Regions from separate parts of the Homo sapiens genome. Here region 2 is reported to be linked to region 1. Evidence: microRNA targets listed by miRTarBase, many of them from high-throughput screens and not tested one by one. Region 1 holds a microRNA gene; the other region holds the end of a gene's coding sequence.
Evidence for each region. Region 1 holds the annotated microRNA hsa-miR-4438 (CACAGGCUUAGAAAAGACAGU, at 1,420-1,440, shown strand). A microRNA usually pairs through its seed, bases 2 to 8, with sites in the 3' UTR of a target mRNA and lowers its output. Matches are read on the target gene's strand: a 7mer-m8 pairs with bases 2 to 8, a 7mer-A1 pairs with bases 2 to 7 and ends in A, and an 8mer does both.

Region 2: miRTarBase lists ZNF454 as a target of hsa-miR-4438. Seed matches in the 3' UTR shown: 7mer-A1 at 626-632.

The regions. Positions count from the first base shown.
Region 1 is chr2:213,756,703-213,759,863 of GRCh38, forward strand. MIR4438 (microRNA 4438) reads left to right here and starts at 1,365; the gene lies at 1,365-1,457. The region is part of intron 10 of SPAG16 (sperm associated antigen 16); the gene reads left to right.
Region 2 is chr5:178,965,682-178,968,681 of GRCh38, forward strand. ZNF454 (zinc finger protein 454) reads left to right here. Exons shown (of 5, transcript NM_001178089.3): 5 at 1-752. The coding sequence ends at 292. Among named protein-coding and RNA genes, the nearest start is that of ZNF454, 26 kb to the left of the region's middle.

The DNA of each region.
Region 1 (3,161 bases):
TAAAATTTAACGGCCTAGGATATGTGTGGGTATGCATGTGTATTTATTTAAAAAGACACTCAAATAGTTTTTTTTTATATGAAGAAAGTAAAGCTTTGACACTGAAATTAAATGATGTAATAACTGTTATATTCAGCTAATATCTCAATGATGGCTTTGAGGCAGTTGATAGTAGATAGCTTTTTTAAAGAAGTGTTTTTGAATGTTTAGCATATGAAACCCTTATGGTGTTGTCTTTATAGAGCAAAGAGGGAATAAAGAAATGGAATGTAAAAAATCCTAAATATTCCACATAAAAAAGCTTACTAGAATTAATAAATGTATTCAGCAAAGTTGCAGGACACAAAATCAATATGCAAATATCAGTTGTGATTTCATATACTAACATAAATCTGAAACGGAAATTTTTAAAAATTGGGTTAAAATAGCATCAAAAATACATAGAAATATAAACTTAACAGGAGACTAAAGACTTGTTCTCTGAAAACTACAAACATTTCTAAAGAAAATAAAGATGGTAATAAATAGACATATATATTCATGAATTAGATGACTTAATATTGTTGTCCATACTACTTAAAGCTATCCACAGGTTAAATACCATCCATATCAAAATACCCATAGCTGTTTTTTTTTTCTGAAATAGAAAAAGCAATTCTAAAATTCATATGCAACCGCAGAGAACCAAAAAGAGCCCAAACAATCTAAAGAACAAGCTGGAGGTCCTGCACTTCCTGACTTCAAAGGATATTACAAAATTACAGTAGTTAAAACATTATGGAGAAATAGTTATAGAAATATGGTGGAGTAGGAAGCACCAGGAATCTGTCTTCCCACCTAGAGAACAATTGTACTGGCAGAATCTGTCTGATATATAACTATTTTGGATTTTTGACATCTACTAAAGGCTTGCAACTTCTAGGGGAAAGCTTGCATGGCGAATTATGATTAATTTCAGTCAATTTCAGCACTTAACCACAGTAGTAGCTACCCATTTCCCACAGTCACCCCTGTAGCAGGCAGCTGTGCACATGTTACTGGAGCAGTCTGCACAGAGCATGCAGGAACCAGAGTGGGCAAAAAAAGGACCTGTCATCCAAATATCGGCAATCTTTGCTCTGATTGCTGATTGCTGTTTCTGGTCACAAAGATGGACGCAAAGAGGTGAGTGGTTATTGTTGCACCTCTATCCATTATTGCAAGCCCCTCCCTGCTGGCTGAAGTGACTTCCAGAAGATTAAAAGGGCCAGTGCCCTTCTCCTACTTTATTTTTCTGTTTTTCCCCCTTTGACAGCTAGACATTAAAAAGTAGGGCATTCAAAGTAACTGCACATATGGTGACAATCAGAAAATGACTAAGTTACTAAGTGTAAACTTAAGGACTGTCTTTTCTAAGCCTGTGCCTTGCCTTTCCTTTGGCACAGGCTTAGAAAAGACAGTCTTTAAGTTTACACTTCAGACTGATTCTTGGCACAGAGATAGCCTACAACAGAATCCTCTTATGACAATATAAAAAGCAAAATCATTGACTGAAGTAACCGCAAACTCTCAGTAAGAGGGAGAATCTAATTTTTAGAGTTACTATGTTATTAGATCCAAAATCACAATTCATACAAAAAATTAAGAAACTATGTCTTGTCCAAAGGAAAATATGAAATCCCTAAAATGACTTGATGGTGGATCTGCTACAGAGGGACTTTAAAATAATTGTGTTAAATGATCAAAGAACTACAGGAAGATATAGAGAAAGTCAAGAAAATGATATATGAACAAAATGAAAAAAATTCAATGGATAGGAAACCTCACAAGAAGTTAAAAAAAATTGGGAGCTGAAAAGTACAACAACTTAAATAAAAAATTTACTAGAGCGATTCAAAGGAAGATTTGAGCAAGCAAAGGAAACAGTCAGTAAACTTGAAGATAGGACAATGGAAATCAAGGAACAGAAGGAAAAAGAATTGAAAAAAGTAAACAGAGTCTAAGGGACCTGTGTGACACAATCAAGGAGTCACAGGAGGAGAGGAGAAAGAGAAGAGAAAACTTGAAGAAACAACGGATAGAACCTTTCCAAATCTGATAAAAGACATTAATATAAACATTCAAGAAATCCAACAGAATTCAAGGAAGATGAACTCAAAAAGACATAAACTGAAATACATTATAATCAAAGCTTTAAAAGGTGGAGACAAAGATAGAATCTTAAAAGCAGCAGAAAAACATCAATATATTACTTATAAGGAATAATCAGTAAGATTATCAGTATATTTCTCACCAGAAACGTTGCAGGCCAGAAGGCAGTGGGCTGACATTCGAAGTGCTAAAGAAAAACAAAAACAGAAAACATTATCAAACAAGAATCTTATATCCAGCCAAACTGTCCTTAAAGTGAGGGCGAAATTAAGACATCCCCAGGAAAACAACAGTTGGGAGAGCTTGTTACCATTGGACCTGACTTGCAAGAAATCCTCCTGCAGAGTGAAATGAGAAGACACTAGACAGTAACTTGAAGTTGTGTAAAGAAATAAAGATCTTAATAAAGGAAAATACATAGAAAATTATAAAAGCTTATATTATTGTAACAATACTTTTTAACTGCACTTTTCGTGTTCTACATGCTTTAAGAGGTTAATATATATATATTTAAATTTGTATAAAAGTTCATATTATGCTTTGTAACTCCAATTTTGTTTTGTACATAATTTAAGAGACTAATGAATTTAAAATACTTACATGTTTATATTTTTGTATAATACATAAAGATATAATTTTGTGACATCAAAAATTGAGAGGGTGGGGGAATGGAGCTTTTGAAGGAGCCGAGTTTTTATATATTATTGCAGTTATGGTGGTACAAATTTAAATTAGAATGTTATATATGCAGGATCTAAAATATAATCCCTATGGTAACCACCAAGAAAATAGCTATATACAAGGAAATGAGAAAGAAATTTAAGCAAATCACTAAAGAAAATAAAATAGACAACTAAATATAAAAGATAGTAATGCAGGAAATGTAGGGAAACATCTATAAGCTATAACGAATTCAAATAGTGGCTGGGCGCAGTGGCTCACACCTGCAATCCCTGCGCTTTGGGAGGCCGAGGTGGGTGGATCATGAAGTCAGGAGATCGAAACCATCCTGGCCAACATGGTGAAACCCT
Region 2 (3,000 bases), not on the chromosome of region 1:
ACTAGCCCAACATCAGAGAATTCATACTGGGGAAAAACCTTATACATGTAACATATGTGAAAAAGCCTTCAGTGACCATTCAGCCCTTACCCAACATAAGAGAATTCATACTAGGGAAAAACCTTACAAATGTAAAATCTGTGAGAAAGCCTTTATCCGAAGCACTCACCTGACTCAACATCAGAGGATTCACACAGGAGAGAAACCCTATAAATGTAATAAATGTGGGAAAGCTTTTAACCAGACTGCAAACCTCATTCAGCATCAGAGACATCATATTGGAGAGAAGTGATATGAATGCAGTTTGTATGGAAGACCTTTGAGACTGAGTAGATGAATTATTGAATGTGAGATAATCCGTTCTAGAGAATAACTATGAAAGCTTGCATCAAGATAGTCACTTTATTTACTGAGGGTCAGGTTTCACAGTGTCATGGGGTTTGGGCATTTAAGAATGGCAAACACTCGGCTGGGCACAGTGGCTCACGTCTGTAATCTTTGGGAGCACTTTGGGAGGCCGAGGTGGGCGGATCACGAGGTCAGGAGATCGAGACCATCCTGGCTAACAGGGTGAAACCCCATCGCTACTAAAAATATAAAAAATTACCCGGGCATGGTGGTGGGCGCCTGTAGTCCCAGCTACTCGGGAGGCTGAGGCAGGAGAATGGCATGAACCCGGGAGGCAGAGGTTGCAGTGAGCCGAGATCGTGCCACTGCACTCCAGCCTGGGCGACAGAGCAAGACTCAGTCTCAAAAAAAAAAAAAAAAAAAAGAATGGCAAACACTCCTCATTCTTTAATACTGCCTCAAATAGCAGTACTGTTTGATTTGTCTGAATTACCAAGCATCAGAACCAAAATGGAGCTTCATTAACAGCATTAAAAAATTGGTTTATCAAATTACATTTTGACTATTAGAGAAACTGAAATTGTAAAAATTAAAGCTGAAAAGCAAAGGAACAAAAAGGTAAAATGGCCTACGAGCGTTGCACTCTACTAGATTCTCTTACATAAGAGAGTTGCCAGCTTTAATGGAAGCCTTAGTCCTCTCCTCACCCACACCACCGACACCCAGTGTAGAGAAAGTACGTCACCCACACTTATTTAAACCATGCTTCCTGCCTTTTGCTTCAAACCATCCATTGTCAGATCTCTCTGGTCTGTCTGCTGGCTTCATCCCTGTAGAATCCCTGTGAGACGATTCATTTGCCCCAAATGACCCTCTTCTGACTTAGCAACGCCTAACTGTCTGCATGGTGCCACCTATCACTGCCCCTATGGGGAGTGTGGTGGTCTGGTCTCAGACACAGTCCATGATGTTGAATATCACACCCAAATCCAGCCTTCAGAACTTGGTATCTCTGTCCAGAAGGCACAACTTGATCAAAATTCTTGAGTTATGCATTTCCTCTGGGCTTCAGCTTGACTGATCCTGGGATGGCACCTGAAGGAGGGGCTTTGCCTGTGCCGCCTTTACCCTCCAATTGTTCTGTACTTAGTGACTCTACACATCAGTCAGGGACTTGCTCAGCTTCAGGTGCAATGATCCCACCCACTTACGTTGTACTATTCCCAGTCACCTCCATCTGTCGCTGCCCATTTCTCTATGTGCAATTGATATAAGAGGTGAAAGCCCCAAGGCCAGTTCTCAGAATGCTCTGACCCACTCTCTTCCCCTGGCTGTACAGTCCACTGTGTCCACTGCATTAGAGTACATTTACTACTCCCAGGATAAACTGCTGCATCCTGGTCCTTCCCCTGCTTTTTCTAGGTTTCTGGAGGTAGTAATTCTATATTCATAGGAAAGCAGACAGCTTTGAATTTCTGCTTTTGCATTTGGAAGTGGTCATTTCCTCTCCTCCATCTGGGCCTTCCACTATTTAAAGACTCATGCTGACAGTGGTGAGAAAAATGTTGAGTAATTCCATGAGTCAAGAAGTGGTCACTAGCACCATTGATATTCTCTGGCAAGGGCCATGTCCGTGTTCAAAAGTTTGAGTGGTACAGTCGTCCTGCAAGTATGGTTCCTTTACCCTGTTTTTTTTTTTTCTTTTTCTTTTTCTTTTTTTTTTTTTTTGAGACAGAGTCTTGCACTGTCGCCCAGGCTGGAGTGCAGTGGTGTGATCTCGGCTCACTGTAACTTCCACCTCCTGGGTTCAAGTGATTCTCCTGCCTCAGCCTCCCGAGTAGCTAGGTCTACAGGCACCCACTACCATGCCCAGCTAATTTTTTGTATTTTTAGTAGAGTTGGGGTTTCACTATGTTGGCCAGGCTGGTCTCAAACTCCTGACCTTGTGATCCGCCCACCTCGGCCTCCCCAGGTGCTGGGATTACAGGCATGAGCCACCGCACCCGGCCACCTTCCCCGTCTTTAATCCTTCAGTGCTTTCAGTAGAAATCACACAGATAAGTAACATCTGTGCATCACACACACACACACACACACACACACACACACACAGCCTCTGAGGGCCCTCTCCCTTTTCCTACCACAAGGAATGGAGGAGCCTTCACTACTGCAAGCTGGAATATATCATGCAGTGAAGATGGGAGGCCAAGCAAATTTTTCTGGAAAGTGAAGTGGCAAGTTCCTGGTATGTGGAAGTGCTGTCCGTCAAGTTGAGCAACCCCCTGACCCCTCAGAATGGAGCACCTCACCCCCATGTTACAGAAGAGGATATTCTATATCATGGTAGAACTCAGTGGGCTCTGGGTTGCAACATAGACTTGGAAGCTTCCAGCAGCTTCAAAGTCCAAGTAATCTAAATTCAGCCTTCATCTAATAAAGGCCACCTTTGTGGGCCAGCATCTCCTGTTAGCTGATCAGCAACTCAGACTTTCTTCCCTATTAAGCTGCATGTGAAGCAGTATTTCAAGAGGTTTCTTGGGATTGCTTGTGTCCCATGTCCTCAGAAGTTCATCTGCAGCTTCACGCAGCTGACACCCTCAGATTCCAGAGTAAACCTGAAAAAACCACGTTCACTGCTACAGATGTCTGTCT